Regions from separate parts of the Homo sapiens genome. Here region 1 is linked to region 2. The links come from fine-mapping of genetic effects on gene expression. Tissue or cell type: whole blood. Region 2 holds a variant in brackets; the other region holds the start of a gene. All regions are shown on one strand. Distances are from middle to middle.

Region 1 (8,085 bases), 310 kb after region 2:
GGGATGGGAGTGGGTCTGGCACTCTGAGGAAAGGGGGTGAAACCAGCTGAGAAGTCATCTTTTACCTGCTGGCATGGCCCCAGCCAGGGTTCTGTTGCTATGGGAGAATGGGTGAGTAGGGATGGATTACACCACCCTGGATCTAGAGGACAACCTGGCTTGAGGGGCATGGGGGACGCTGGAAGTCAGGGTAAGAAGCTTGGACTTCATTCTACTGGCATGGAGAGCCCCTGGAAACTACTGAGCAGTAGAGGGATAGGCTAAGCTTATAGGAGGAGCCAAAATTATTACTGTAGCTCCTTAGATCTTAGATCCTGTGACTTAGGAAAGGCAATAGGAGCCCCTGAGCATTCTGGGTCCTTTGTACATTTGGGAGAACAGAGGCCCGGAGTGGGAAATCGTCCTCCTGGGCAGCACAAACATGGCTGCTCCATTCCTATTCAGAAGCCTCGTTTCCTGATTAAGGCTCTGGCATCTGTGGTGTTTCATTGTTCATTATTCATGAATAGACTTGGCCCTGTTCAAAACTAAAGCTTCAATGCTGCAAATGAGGGCTGCAGAGAGGATGTTGGGGAACTCGTCTGTTTGGCTTCAAAACTGCCCCCTTTCCTCTGGAAAAATCCTCTCTAGAATACCGTGCCAAGGCCTGGTGAGTGAGAAATGAGTTTTCATGATGTATCAAAAGAAAAATGCTTCTTTTAAGAAAACGTCTTTATAAATGGCAGCAGATGGGGAAGAATCTAAAAGAAAGAGCAACGCTTGCAGGTTGAAAGCATTACCTCCAGATATGGAGACGTTAGGACTAAGGGAAGGTCAGAGATGGGCCCACGAGGCCAGGTTTCAATGGACTTACCATTTCCTTCTTCGTGCATCCACTGATGGACACACGTAGGCACACGCACCAACAGCCTCCCATGTGGACAGTCCAGGGTGCCCAGAACCCTTCCAGCAAGACTTTGATTTCTGTTTCGAAGGATTTCTTGAGGCCCCTCTGTAGAGCTGCTTGTCTTCTTCATAACCGGTGCCTGGGTCAGAGCAGGTGGGGTGAGCTGCACTCACAGCTGGGAGGTGAGTCTGTGATCTCATTGTGCAGTGGCCCTGCCAGGTTGCTCTTTCTAAAACCTTGGGTATTGCAAATTCTGCTTCTTAGGGACCGCTTGGTCCCCCAGTCCTCCCCCTGCTGACTCCCTTCCTGATGAAGCCACCAGCATGGCTCTCAGGGTAGTGCTGTCTTCCTTCTCTAGAACAGCCACGTGGCCCCAGGGCTGGCACTTACTGGTCACCGTGGTTACAGACGCCTCTTCTAGGCTGTGAACTGTCACAGGAGTGGGTCCACTTCGGCCGACACTTCCTCAGGGGTATTAAGTAGCTGGGGGTCCCCCTGAGTCTCCATCACCCTCTTACCCATTCTCCACCCCCTCCCCCACCACACATACACTCTACTCCCCCAGTGCTGAATAACTTGCCAAAGCACTGTGCTGGCACTGGGGCATGGTAAAGAAGACGGGGCCTCTGCCCTAGGGAGGAGGTGATGAGGGCAGGAATAGCAGCACAGAGGGTGAGAGGCAGAGACAATGGCACTGAGTGGGGGCACGAGGATGGAAGAGGAGCATGCTAGATGGGACGATGGGACCCAGCACTGACCAAATAGAAGCTTGTGGGTGGCACATCAGTCACTCCAGGGACATATGTGGTCACTGCCATTTTCCTAATGAAACTCCTCCAGTTATTAAACAAAGGCCCAGAGTCACAGACTTAAGGACCAGAAGTGGGATTTGAACCCAAGTCCCCCAGATGACAGGGCTCCCACGTGCTTCTCTAGGTCACATGAGCCCACGCTGGAGGGGAGGAGGGGTGTTTCAAGAAGAGGGGAGATGTGGGCAAAGAAAGGCACAGAGACCGTAAGCAGACAGGTGTGTTCCAGAAAATGCAAGTTATTTGGCACTGGGGGAGCAGAATGTATATGTGGTGGGGGAGGGGTGGAAAATGGGTGAGAGGGTGGTGGAGACTCAGTGGGATCCCCAGCTACTTAATTCCCCAACAGGGAAAGAGCCTAGAAACTCCCTCCACCTCCCGCAAAGCAGTGGGGAAGTTGCGGCCACACTGTTTTCGGTCCGCTCATTCCCTCTGCAGTCTGGCTGCTCAGGGGGATGGAGGAGGATGGGGCTTGCAGGCAGGCACAGCCGGTTTGGAAGGTGTCCTGGCTCCAGCACTCAACTTGTGGCATGACACTCAGGGGAGTCACCCTTTCTGGCCCTCAGTTTTCTCCTCTGTAAAATAAGGAAATTCGACAAAAATAAGTTATCACCAATTTATTCACCACCACGTGTCCTTTTAATTCCATCTGCCCCAGGACTGCAGTGGGGAGTCTTTCTTTGCCGATGGACTTCGAAAATCATCACCCCCCGCATTTTTTGTGGTTAACCACAGCTAGCCAGGAACTCAGGGCTTCTCATCAGCAGAGGCCTCTGCCTCTCCAGTATCCAGGGCCGAATGGATTTTGGGTCAAGGCCTCCCTCCCGCAGCCAGGAGGCCCTGGCTTTATGGAATATCGCTTGGAGTCCAGGGAGTCAGCATGGGGACCCCGACAGCTTTCCCATGCCCCAGGCTCCTGGGCCTTTCTGGGGGACCCCTCTGGACCTTGGGCATTAACAAGGTTCATATTTGGAAGGTGCTTTGAGGGGGCTTATAGGTATTTGGAGTTTACTTTTTAAACTATTTGTATTGGAAAAATAACGTGTGCACAAGGGAACAACCCAAATACAGAAGAATATTAAAATCCCCAAGCCCCCAGCCCCCTCCCATGCTACTCTATCCCAAAGTCAGCTCTGCCGGCTCACCCAACCCTGGGTGCCTCTGCCCAGGGTGGGGGTGGAGGTTTGAGGGTTCGGGATGAGGGCTGGACGAAGGGCCTCCTCTCAGGTCCTTGGACACGAGCTGTGCCCATCTGCTCAGTGTGGACCCAGGACTACTGCCCACAGGCCTGGTGCTGCCTGGGCACCCAGACCCACCTCCAGGGTCGCCCTCAGCCCTCCTGATGACTCTCGGACTCGCATCTGTCCCAACGGATGCACCAAAGATTCTCCAGTGGGAAATCAAATTTTTGATAACAAGTGTTTTGAAATAATCACGCACTTGGTGAAAAATCAAAAGAGGGGAAAACCCCTTTCCCATCTGAGACCGCTCCACCCTCGCCAGTTACGAGCTGCCGAGCCGCTTCCTAGGCTCTCTGCGAATACGGACACGCATGCCACCCACAACAACTTTTTAAAAGAATCAGACGTGTGAAGGATTCTATTCGAATTACTTCTGCTCTCTGCTTTTATCACTTCACTGTGGGTCTGGGCGCGGGCTTTCTGCCAGCTCCGCGGACGCTGCCTTCGTCCGGCCGCAGAGGCCCCGCGGTCAGGGTCCCGCGTGCGGGGTACCGGGGGCAGAACCAGCGCGTGACCGGGGTCCGCGGTGCCGCAACGCCCCGGGTCTGCGCAGAGGCCCCTGCAGTCCCTGCCCGGCCCAGTCCGAGCTTCCCGGGCGGGCCCCCAGTCCGGCGATTTGCAGGAACTTTCCCCGGCGCTCCCACGCGAAGCCGCCGCAGGGCCCCCTTGCAAAGTTCCATTAGTTTGAAGGACGCGAATCTCAGCGAGAGAACCTGCGGAAAGCGAATATGTGGGGCGCGCAGACGGGGAAACTGAGTCCCGCGAGAGGGCCGGCCTGTGCGCTGCCCCGCCCGCGCCCCGCCAGCACCGCCGTGCCCGGGCGCGCCCGCCCTGCCCCCTCCGCGGGCGGTCCCGGTCCAGCCGCCCGCCCTCCCTCCCGCCATCCGGCCAGCCCCCATCCCGGGCGCCGTGCCCGTCCCCAAGGCGGCTCGTCACCGCTGCGAGGCCAATGGGCTGGGCCGCGCGGCCGCGCGCACTCGCACCCGCTGCCCCCGAGGCCCTCCTGCACTCTCCCCGGCGCCGCTCTCCGGCCCTCGCCCTGTCCGCCGCCACCGCCGCCGCCGCCAGAGTCGCCATGCAGATCCCGCGCGCCGCTCTTCTCCCGCTGCTGCTGCTGCTGCTGGCGGCGCCCGCCTCGGCGCAGCTGTCCCGGGCCGGCCGCTCGGCGCCTTTGGCCGCCGGGTGCCCAGACCGCTGCGAGCCGGCGCGCTGCCCGCCGCAGCCGGAGCACTGCGAGGGCGGCCGGGCCCGGGACGCGTGCGGCTGCTGCGAGGTGTGCGGCGCGCCCGAGGGCGCCGCGTGCGGCCTGCAGGAGGGCCCGTGCGGCGAGGGGCTGCAGTGCGTGGTGCCCTTCGGGGTGCCAGCCTCGGCCACGGTGCGGCGGCGCGCGCAGGCCGGCCTCTGTGTGTGCGCCAGCAGCGAGCCGGTGTGCGGCAGCGACGCCAACACCTACGCCAACCTGTGCCAGCTGCGCGCCGCCAGCCGCCGCTCCGAGAGGCTGCACCGGCCGCCGGTCATCGTCCTGCAGCGCGGAGCCTGCGGCCAAGGTACTCCGCCGCGCTCCTGGGCAGCTCCCCACTCTCTCCATCCCAGCTCGGACCTGCTTCTGCGGGACTGGTGGGCAGGTTGAGGGGCAGCGAAGCGTTGTGGGGTGGCCAGGGCAACTCTCGGGGACAGGCAGGTGGGCCCCGGGGTGGCGGATTTCCGCGGGCTGCCTCGGAACCGAGCTTCGCGCCCAGCCCGGGGCCGGTTCTGCGCCCAGACGATGCCAGTACGCCCGGCCTGCACTCTGGGGCTCGAGACGCCGGGCGACCGGCCATGGAGTGCCCTGAGGGCAACCACACAGCGCGGGGACCCCAGGACAAATAAGAGGAATGGGGGCATAAAGGAAGGAGAGAAGTTCAGGACTGGGAATTGGCGCCTCGCAGAGCGGCTTCAGGACCACAAGAAGTCATTTCGGTTGCTTTTTCTTCTATTTACGTCCTCCGTCCCCTTTAAAATTCACTGCTTTGATCACGGGACCGCTCAGTGAAAACTGTATGTAACTCTTTTGGAAAGGAACAGTGTTTGCCGGCCCGCCCCGGAGTTTCTCCAAAAAGTCTACCCCGAGCAGGGAACGGTTTGGCACCGCTCTCGTTTCGGCGGCGTTGCTGCCTGTCTTGCTTTCCTCGTTTTGAGCCAGCCCTACAAAAATGAAAGTGGCTCCTTTTGAATAAGCTGAATCGGGCTTTGGATCACGAAATCTGCAGAGGCGGAGAAGGGACCGGGTTAGTGATGAGGAAGAAGTCTACCCCTCTGTTCCTACAGCCGCACACAGGACCTGTTCTGGCAGGGGAGACGGTGGTGATGGGGGAAGGAGTGGAATGGAGCAATGTCTAACTCTCTCGCGGGACCTTCCGGAGAGATGCTCCTCATCTTCAGGCAGAGGCCATGTGGAAAAATAATATCGAGTTCAGCAGCGGCCAGCCCCGCGTTGTAGGAACCAGACAGCGGGGCTTGGCAGTGCGCTTGGGCGCAGCCGTGCCGCTGCTGCCGGACCCCAGTGCTGCCTCCTCAACACGGGCAGTGCCAGGAGAGGGGCATAGGGGAGCACAGTGCAGAGGGACTGGTCTAGAGTTTACTTTATAGGAATATGGTTCGGTGTGACCAACTAGGGCTTAGCATAGTTTGGCTTACGTGGACGGGAAGATGCCAGAGCCGAACTGGGTGAAATTCGAGATTGCGTATTTCACCAACACAGGAGCACAGCCCTCGGGAAACTCAGCCTAGTCAGGCAGTAGAGAGTTGTCCCGGAGAGAAGTGATCCTGCAGACTCGAGAAGGGGCATGATGATAGCACACGTCTGTTGAGCACCCAGTCTGTGTGCCGGGTGTGTTACCTCTGTGACCTCATTTGGTCAAACGAGGAGGCAGTTGCTCCTCTCTCTCTCTTTTTTTTTCTTAAGAGACAGGGTCTCCCTCTGTCGCCCATGCTGGAGTGTAGTGGTGTGATCATGGCTCACTGCAGCCTCCGACCCCTGGGCTCAATGATTCTCCTGCTTCAGCCTCCCAAGTGGCTGGGACTACAGGCGGATGCCACCACACCCAGCTTCTCATTCCCGTTTTACAGATAGCGGAGCTAAGGTTGAAAAACTTGCCCAAGGTCATTCAGCTGGAATTTAAACCCAGACAGCCTCATTCAGAGGAGTCAGCCCAGCACTTAACTCCAAGGGTGTGGGAGAGGGGTCAGGTGCTGTAAATTTCCTGGTGGGCTGGACGTGCATCCCCCTCAGAGCTGGGAACAGCATACACAAAGCCTAAGACTTGTTTGGAGGTGAATAGATCAGTGTGGCTGGGGAACGTTTTGGGAGGGCAGCAGGAGTGAGCCAGGCTGGTGGCCCAGAGTCCCAGGGCTGAAGAGGCTGGCTGTGCCCCGTGCCCTGTGCGCAGATGTTCTTGAACTGGAGCAACTCAAAGCCTAGTGTAGTGTAGGGCTGACCTAGCAGTGGAGTGCGGAATGCATCCAGGGTGGAGAGTTTAGACTACTGCAATAATCTGGGTGTGAGGCGACAACATTGAAAAAGCATGTTTTTGTCCAAAACAAGCCAGCTGTTACTGGTCTCGCTGTTTGTGGTCTCATCGCACGGGGTCCTGAGTTGCTGGCACCATGCGAGCCGCCTAATTTATTGCTAGTGAGGCAAGTTGCTTAACAAGTTTTGGAGTTGGCTGAGTCCCTGTGTGGAGGAAAACAGGTCCCCCATTGGCCATCGGGCTCACAGCGGGCCCCCGGTGTACCAGTGAGGGGACAGCCACAGAGGGATAAGCATGGTGGCTTTGAAAGGAGGGAGAGACAGAGTGGGTACAATGCTTTTCTTATCCCTCCCTCCTTCTTTTGCAAATATTTATTGAGCTCTGTAGGGTGTCTGACACCGTTTGCATGTTTGTCTGTCTGGCACATCGGAGGTACTTGGTACGAGTGGATTAGTGAATGAATAAATGAATGAATGAAGACAAACGGGAGGTGCTTGCGATACACAGCCATTCTGTTTTTCCTTAGTGGAAGGCACTGCTTTGCTGCGCCCCCTCTCTGGATCTCACACTCCACCCTTGACTTTTCGGAGGTGTTTCCGAGGACAGGCGCCTGGGAGCCAGCAGACTTCATTCAGTCCAAGCCAGGCTCCAGGACTCAACAGCTGGTGCCCACGGGCAGGTCACTTGACGTCACTGTTAAATGAGGTGAATTGGCTGCCTGCTCTGGCTGGAAGATTGGCGGGAGAGTCACTTTAGCTGCCATGGACATGAGCCTTTTCTAGGGGTGCCACTTGACTAGAGGCCTGGAGTTGGAGCAAGTCATACACGGATCTGGAGACAGAGCTCTCGAGGCAGGAGCGGGTGCTGCGATTTCAAATATTATAAGGTGGCTTTGTCTGGGGCAGAGCATGCCAGGGGATGAGAGGTAGAAATGTCATCAGATCAGGGGTCCCCAGGGAGGTGACTAGCACTTTGGGTCACAGTAGATCTTTGGATAGAGGAACATGTCACCATTCAAAGGAAAGCACTTTCATCTGTAAGCTGTTTATTGAATAGACCTCAGAGAACATCTCTGCTCACCGCTCTGGAAATGAAGGCAAATCATCTATTTCAGAAGTCAATGCACTGGCAGGGTTTGGATGGGAAAGTATACAATTCAGCTAGAGAACAAAGATCTGTCATCTCCAGCTGTACTGGTCAGATGATTACAAAAAAGAAAGGAATTGAAATACTAATAGGGTACTAATAATGAGGGCTAACATATATGTTGTGCTTATTCTATGCCGGGTGCATACTAATTCATTTGATCCTCCGGACAGTCCTATGAGTGAGTGCTGTAGTCTTCCCTGGGTTACAGCTGGGCAGCTAAGTCACAGAGAAGTACCTTGCTCAGGACTGGTGGTCCCACACAACTGGATGGAGAGCCTCGTTCATAACCACCATGCTGTGCTGTTGACAGAGCAACAGAGATTTTAAACCAACCCCAGCTAAGCCCCAGCTAATAGCTGAAATAAACAGGGCTCCAGATGGCTGTGGCTTAGAGATGGAACAGGACAGATCACAGCCTTCACTCTGCAGGCTCAGGAGCCTGAAGACAAGGTTGCCTCCAGTTGCCGTCAGTGCAGCCCTCACTAAAGAAA
Region 2 (8,103 bases):
TCAGTTTCTTATAAAGGTAAACATAAATCCACAATATGACCCAGCAATCCCATTTTTAGATATTTACCTATGAACGATGAAAATATATGTCTACCTAAAAACTTGTATGCATGTATTCTTCATAATTGCCCCAAATTTGAAACAACCCAGATATCTATCCACTGGTGAAAGGATCAACAAATTGTGGTATATCTATGCCAAGGAATATTACTCACCCATAAAAAGGAACAAGCTATTGATTCATGCAACTAAATTGATGAATCGCAAATGCATTAGGCTAAGTGAGAAAGACTGGACTCAAAAGACTACATTCTACATGATTCAGTCTAGATGAGATTCTGGGAAAGGCAAAACAATAAGGAATGGAAAACAGATCAGTGGGCACTGGGGGCTGGGATTTGTATTGACTACAAATGAGCATGAAGAGATCTTTGTGGGGGGTGATGGAAATGTTCTGTAAAATTTGTGGAACTATATACTTAAAAAGAGTGAATTTTACTATTTTTTGGTATGTAAGTTATACCTCATTTTTTTTAAAAGAACTTATCCAAGGGCTAGAGTAGATTTTTGATGAAATCTAAAATAAAAATTTCAACCTTCAGACCTTTTGCTGATGCAGTGTTAGGGTCAGAGAGCATCTCTGGTGCCTCCTGGCACCAGCAGACACAAGTGGTACCCATTTGCTCTATGTCTTTCTTTCCTGAGGTCAGATGGGCTCACGGCTCTCAACCTGTCATAGAAGGCACACTGGGTGATCTCACCTTTAGCCCTGGAGCCCACTCTGTGTGGGTTGCTTCTGAATCTCATTCATTTACACATCTGAGCCATTCAGCAACATGAACTTGGGATTACTCTGGGCCAATCACTGTGCTAGGGACAGGACACAGAGGTCTGGAAGACAGGCACCGTCCTGCCCTCAAGGAGCATCCAGTGCTGGCAGATAGACATGGAGCAATGAGTTACTAGGGGAGAAGTGCAGCACCCTGGATGGATGCGACCCACAACCTCACTTAGTCTGGGTAGCTGAGGATGGCTTCCCAGGGAATCGACTGAGAGCTTAGGCTGAGTGGGTTTATGTGTGGGCTGGGCCGGAGGTTGCTGAAGATACAGAAGAGAATAGATATTGTTGGGGAGAAACAGCATGTGCATGGACCCTGAGGTCCATCTCAAAAAAAAAAAGTTATCAATATATTGATACATCTTTATTATAATAACTAAAGTCTATAGTTGCTGTGGTTTGAGTATTTGTTGCCTCCAAAATTCATGCTGAAACTTAACCCCCAATCTGGCAGTATTGAGAGGTGAGGCCTTTAAGAGGTGATTGGGTTATGTGGCTCTGCACTCATGAATGGGTTAATCCATTCATGAATTAATGGATTGCTGGGATATCATGGGAGTGGGACTGGTGGCTTTATAAGAAGAGGAAGAAAGACCCGAGCTAGCTTACTCAGCCCCCTCGTTATAGGATACCCTGAACCACCTCTGTACTCTGCAGAGTCCCCACCAGCAAGAAGGCCCTCACCAGATGCTGCCCCTTGACCTTTGACTTCTCAGACTCCATAACTGTAAGAAAACAACTACTTTTCTTTATAAGTTATCTAGTTTCAGGTATTCTGCTATAAGCAACAGAAAATGAACTAATACAATAGTTGATTCACGTTTTCTTAGTTTTTCCCTAATGTCCTTTTTCTGTTCCAGGATCCCATCCAGGAAACCACATTTCCATTTTGTTTCTGTAGGTGCCTCTTGGCTGTGGCTGTTTCTTCTTAGACTTGTCTTGTTTCTGATGACCTTGACAGTTCTAAGGAGTTCTGGTTGGGTATTTAGTAGGATGCCCCACTATTGGAATTTGTCTGATGCTTTTCTCATGATTGGACTGGGCCTGTGGGTTCTGGGAGGAAGAACAGAGATCAAGTGTCATTTTCATCACATCCTATCAAGGGTACATACCATCGACATGACATATCACTGCTGACATTGACCTCAGTTGCTTGGCTGAGGTCATGTTTGTTGACTGTCTCCACTGTAAAGTTACTTTTTTTTTTTGAGACAGAGTCTCACTCTGTCACCCAGGCTGGAGTGCAGTGGTGCCATCTCCACTCACTGCAACCTCCACCCCAGAAGCTCAAGCGATTCTCCTGCCTCAACCTCCTGAGTAGCTGGGATTACAGGCTCCCGCCACTACGCCTGGCTAATTTTTGTATTTTTAGTGGAGTCAAGGTTTCACCATGTTGGCCAGGCTGGTCTCAAACTCCTGACCTCAAGTGACCCGTCCGCCTTGACCTCTCACAGTGCTGGGATTACAGGCATGAGCCACTGCGCCCCGCCAAGTTCCTTTTTTTCCCCCATTTCAGTACTGTCGTCTGTGGAAGGAAGTCACTGTGTGCACATTTAAGGGGTGGAGAGTTGTGCTCCTCCTCTGTTAGGGTGGAACATCTACAGAAATTATTTAGAGTTTTTCTGCACAGGAGATTTTTCTGTTCTCCTTCATTTATTAATTGATTCAATCATGTATTTATATCTGCATGGACTCCTGGATATTCATTTTATTCTTTGGGTTATAACCCAATACTACGTTATTTCATTGCTCCAATTGTAGCAGCTTTGGTCATGGGCTCCTTGGGCTTTCTTTTAAGAGTGTCCAGAAGCCCCCAGGCAGTACAGTGATACGATCGGATCTGCATTGTTAAAGACCTGGCCAGCTGCCTGCCAAGACAGGAGTGGTTTTAGGATTGAGGCCCCCATTTCCTGGGGCTCCCTGACAGCTGTGGTTCCATCACCTTCAGTGCACTCTCCACCTCGACTCTCTCCACAGCTGCTTTCAACCATGCGGCCATGGCCTGGATCCAGGGATCCAATCAACCGTGTTTTTTCCCTTTGGATGAGTTCCTGGAGGTTTTCAAAGCAAGTTTCGAAAATGTAAGGTTGAACATTTGATTTCACTGAAATGGAAGTCGTTATTCACCCAGGCTGAGCCAGAATTTTTTTTTTTTTTTTTTTTTTTTAGGCAGAGTTTCGCTCTCATAGCCCAGGCTGGAGTGCAATGGCGTGATCTCTTCTCACTGCAACTTCCGCCTCCCGGGTTTAAGCAGTTCTCCTGCCTCAGCCTCCCTAGTAGCTGGGATTATAGGCACCCGCCACCATGCCTGGCTAATTTTTGTATTTTTAGTAGAGATGGGGTTTCACCATGTCGACCAGGCTGGTCTCGAACTCCTGACCTCAGGTGATCCGACCGCCTCAGCCTCCCAAAGTGCTGGGATTACAGGCGTGAGCCACCATGCCCAGCCCTGGGCCAGAATTTGAGGTCCTGGATGGACTCTTGATTTTGGAAATACGTCTTCCATGGGTTCCTGCCACCAGCCAGGCATCGCCTGTTGGAGCCAGCGTGCCTTCTGGGTGTTATGCGCAGGCAGCTGCAGTGCCCGCCATATCTGTGGCTTTGTCTTCTCTCTTTGGGTTTGGAGGGGAGCAGCGAGGCAGTGAGACCTGGTGTATTGACAAAGAAAGCCCAGGGCACATCTTATTACAGAATTGACAGATGCTCTGTTCTTGCAAACATGCTGGGT[G/A]ACTTCCTGCTGCCTCTTCCTGCTTCTTGCGGCTGCTGTGGAAACGATGACACAATCCCACGTTTCCAGTGCAAATGGCTTTTCTCCAGGAGTTTTCACACTCCCCTCCCCCCACTCTCATTGGTAATCATTAGGCCGTAGGCCTTGGGGAGAACAGATGTGACTTTGAGAGGGAGAAAAGTGAGGTTCTGGGAAGGAGAGAGAGCTTCAAGTCTCTGCCTCCTATCCCTGCCTGGGAGGGAGACCATTGCTGCAGTCACCACGCTTCTGATGGGCCTTCCTTTCCCCTCCATCGTAGCCCTCCTGAGGCTTTGTGGGGTCAGCAGGTCACCCTGACTTTTCCAGAGCTGTCAGCTCTTTGGAGAGCTGTACGAGGCTGAAGCCAGGCGAGGGGTCTGATAATAAGAATTTCCAGGAATACAAGCTGAAAGCCCTCACCTCACCAAGGCAGCCACAGCTGACCTCTGAGAGCTTGTGGCAAAGAGCCTGGTGTGTTGGACATGAGCTGAGTGGGTGTGGGTGTGAGCCCACGCAAGCATCATCTCTGTTCAGAGTTGGCCTCTCACTCCCTGCTGCGGACAGCTGTCCCCTAGGAATTGGTGACTTGGAAACCTGGCCAAGGGCTGTCTGGATAGACGCGGGAGAAACGGGATGGGAGAAGCAGCTGAGCTTCTTGCAGGGAGGAGGAAGCCGGATCCCCGGTGCTGGGCAGGAGGCCCAGGAGACACCCCTTGAGAAATGCTACCCTGAGCTGCAGACTGTGGCGGCTGTGGCGTTGGCTCTTCAGGCTTTCCTGTGAGGTGCCCCCACACTCCCGGCCCCACCCGCCCTGGGCAGCTGCCCCAAATTGCTCCCTTCCCTCTGTCAACACTTCTCCAAGACTCCAGAGTTTTTCCTGCGCAGGAGGGGAAGGGCAGAAACCTCCCCATTCCCTCCACCCGAGTTAGAGAAGTCAGCCCTTTGGAAAACATGATGCATCTTCGCTCTGGAGCCAGTTCGCCAGTCCGCTCCCCAGCGCGGCACTTTGCCTTGTAGGCGGGGTGCAGATGAGCCTCTCTGCCTCACTAGGGAAAGGGGCTGGGTTGTTGGGCTGAGGGTCTCCGGGGATTAGACTCTGCGCTGACCAAACTGGGCTCTCGTGGCATCATTCCTTGGTTACGCAGGTCAAGTTTCCATTGTTCTCTTGCCTCTGAGGCCCACTGGGTCCGGGGCAGACTGAGCATAACTACGCTGAGCCACGTCACCGGCCGGTGAGACGCGCGGAGGCATTGATGGGTCCCCTGGTTCCCGCTCAGTCTCCGAAATGTGAGCTGCCGCGGAGTGGGTGCTGGGCTGTCCCGCTGGCTTCAGCCTGAGGAGCAGGAGCAGAGGGCGTCAGTTAGATGGTGGCTCCCTCAGTTCCGTGGGCCCAGGTCTGCAGTTCTTTTCCTCCTTCTGGGAGGGGAGGGGAAGGAGAGCCGGCAGCAGCGGGGCTCCCTGGCCCTACTCTGGGGGCACAGCTGGGAGAAGCTGCAAAGCTTCAGCTTGTGACGCCATCTGGGCGGCAGTCCCACGGCCCCTAGAGCAGCTGGGAAGGGGATCCCGCCCTGAAATGGGGCTCAGGGAGGAACATATGGGCAGGCATCTGTGAGGGCGTGGCTGGACGTGCTCAGCACAGCACTGGTGGGTGGAAGGTTCCAGGGCAGTGTGGGGGCCCTTCTTGCCCTGAATAGGGGCAGCTGAGGCCAGGAGCCCACCCTCCTCCCCGAGCACGGCTGCCCAGGGACGGCCCTCGGCTTCCACTTGATGGTTTTAGGTGCTTGCCCTGCGGGAGGCTGCGTTCCTTCCAAGCCAAATGCGTGCTCTCCAGCCCTCAGACCCAGTGGAGGTGCAGAAAGAGGGGTGGCCAGGAGACGGCTGGTCACAGAGTGCCCCAAAGGTGGTGGAGAAATAGACCCCCAAACCAAGGGAGGCAGGGCCCAGGGAGGTGGGGTAGGATGGGATATGGTACGAGCATGTGCGGCTCAGGACCCCACCATGCCCGAGTGCCTCGCCGTGTTGATGAGCCAGTTTCTTTAATACTTCGCTGTCAGGAGAAGGACCTGCTGAGCGCTGGAGTCTAGGTGGAGTCATGCAGCGTTCCTGGGTCCTTTCTTCTGCTTTGTTTGCATTTTTTGATCCTGCCAGCCAGCCTCTCGGCAGATACATCCCGGTTGATTCTATGCCACGGACTATTCGGAAGGTGGCGCAGGGGAAGGAGCATGAAGTTGGAAAGACAGGCCTATTTACCAGCTGTGTGACATGGCATGAGTTACTTGACTACTCTGAGCCTTGGTTTACCCATCTTTAAGATAGGGCTAGTAGTACCCACCTCTTGGGGGTTATTGTGAGTAGTAAATGTACATGAAGAATGTAGCTCAGTGTTTGACAAGTAGGAGGCATTGAATTCACATTCCCCCCACTCCAACTCCCAGCAGTGATGGGGAAAAGGAGGCAGACAGAGACAGCTGTTCTGGAAACAGAAAAATACAACATGATAAACTTAACATAGTACAACCTGATAAACTCTCCAATAGAGCTGAGAACAAAAGACTCAAGAGAAGGGAGCACCTGACTCTGCCTGGAGAAGTTGGGAAGGCTTCCCAGAGGAGGCGGCATCACCACTGAGTTTTGCAGCATGGCTAGGTGTTTGCTGAGGGTAAAGAAGGGCAAAAGTGCTTCAGGGAAGAGGAACCAAATGTGCCAAAGCTTGGGGTGTGGCGAGGCCCAGCAGATTCAGGCAGCAGGTCAGAGAGGAACTGGAGGGACTAGAGGGAGGTACGGCGGTCTCAGACAGAGCAGCAGGGTGAGCAGCCAAGGTGGCCATGGTCCTCAGATTTAGAGGGGCCTGCAGCCAGACTGGGGAGTTTGCTGGTGCCAAAGAAGTGCAAAGAAACATGTCTTCTCTTTTCAAGCAGGGGAGAGTCAGGATGGAATTTAGTTTGGGGAAATATCTCTGGTGGCGAGGAGGAGGGTGGGTGGAGGAGAGGCCAGAGGTCAGAGGGCCATGTGGAAGTTGTTCCTGTGGTCCAAGTGGGAGACAGTGGTGGCCTGAACTAAAGCAGTGGCCGTGGGGATGGAGGGGACCTGGGTCTGTCTTTGTGCCTTGCATTCATCCATTCACCAACGTTGATTGAGCATTTGCTCTGTGCAAGGCTGAAGGCAGGTGCTGGGATACAGTGGTGACCCTGCAACGTGGGCCACAGTATGTCTGAGGGTGACACTGCGGAGGTGACTACTCCCAGGCTGGACTGTGACTCTGGGCAGGGGCTCGCTGGGAGAAGTTGCCCAGGGCCTGGGGCTTGGCACCAGCATTTCCTCCCCTTACTGCCCAAGGCTGGGGCCCAGGGCCAGAAGGGTATAATTCCCCATGTGGCTCCACCAAACATGGAGACCTTGGAGTGTTCTCCTGGGCTAAGAGGCAAAGGATGGTGGCTCTTTGAGGATGACTTGCCCACCTTGTGCCCCACCTTGGTGTCCCTGCTCCCATCTCTGTCTAAATACCGTCTTGCTGAGCATCATTTCCTGGCTTTGCAGAAAGAATTACAGGGTCCTGCCTGCCTTTCTTGGGTTTAGATAATGGAGCTGAAAGCCAATGAATAAAATCAGAATGATTTCTTAAAGAGGGATGGAAGATCCAACAACAACAACAAAAAGAAATAAGCAAACACAAATGAAAGGGGGAAGTCTCCCAGGTCGGAGGACCTGCAGTCTGGCCAGAGCGGCTCTGCTCAAACCACAGGGAGAAGCTTAACATTGTGGCCAGTACACATGTACTAACCCCATATGTGTCCACGATTGGCACGGACCTTCCCTTACTTGGTGGGCTGCAGTGATACTCTATTCCATTCCATTCCATAAACGCGTGTTGACACGGCTGACTTGATGACATGATTCCCTGGTGCATCGTCCCTGCTTCATTTCCAAGAGGAGGCAGCTTGTCCCGAGGTTGGCACGTGGTACCAGCAGTGCCTCTGCCAACACAGCCTGAGACATCTGTCCAGACTGACGTAGTTGGGGAAATGGGCCGAGCCATCCTGCATCCTCACTCTCTGTGGCCAGAACGCTGACTGTTGCAGCACTGTTTGGCAGGACTCAGGGTGGGAACTGGGACCTTGTGGAGAAAAGGGTGGAGAGCAACATAATAGGCTCTGACTGGGATTAGGTTTCAGGTTCTCCCTGGAGCATCACAGAGTGGCTCTAGTTTTCTTCCTCTTGTGATAACATCTGGCCTTTACTGAGTACTTTCTATGTACCAGGCACTGAGAGCAATGCTTTTGATATATATTTCTTTCTTTCTTTTTTTTTTGAGACGGAGTCTCACTTGCTCTGTCTCCCAGGCTGCAGTGCAGTGGTGTGATCTCGGCTCACTGCAGCCTCCGCCTCCCAGGTTCAGGCAATTGTCCTGCCTCAGCATCTTGAGTAGATGGGATTACAGGCATAGGTCACCACGCCCGGCTAAGTTTTGTATTTTTAGTAAAGACAGAGTTTCACCATGTTGGCCTGGCTGGTCTCAAAC

What was found. PIP is the estimated chance that this variant, and not a neighbour inherited with it, causes the effect.
Region 1: HTRA1 starts here. The variant in region 2 is fine-mapped to the expression of HTRA1 in whole blood (TOPMed, PIP 0.97).

What each region holds. Positions count from the first base shown.
Region 1 is chr10:122,457,642-122,465,726 of GRCh38, forward strand. It overlaps HTRA1 (HtrA serine peptidase 1), which reads left to right and starts at 3,912. Exons shown (of 9, transcript NM_002775.5): 1 at 3,912-4,483. The coding sequence starts at 4,012. It overlaps HTRA1-AS1 (HTRA1 and ARMS2 antisense RNA 1), which reads right to left and starts at 3,764. Exons shown (of 3, transcript XR_946382.3): 1 at 3,308-3,764; 2 at 854-2,270.
Region 2 is chr10:122,145,117-122,153,219 of GRCh38, forward strand. All of the region lies in intron 7 of TACC2 (transforming acidic coiled-coil containing protein 2), which reads left to right. LOC124902518 (a long non-coding RNA gene) reads right to left here. Exons shown (of 2, transcript XR_007062323.1): 1 at 7,404-8,103; 2 at 1,188-1,891. Among named protein-coding and RNA genes, the nearest start is that of BTBD16, 120 kb to the right of the region's middle. The variant G/A (reference allele first, on the strand shown) is at 3,567.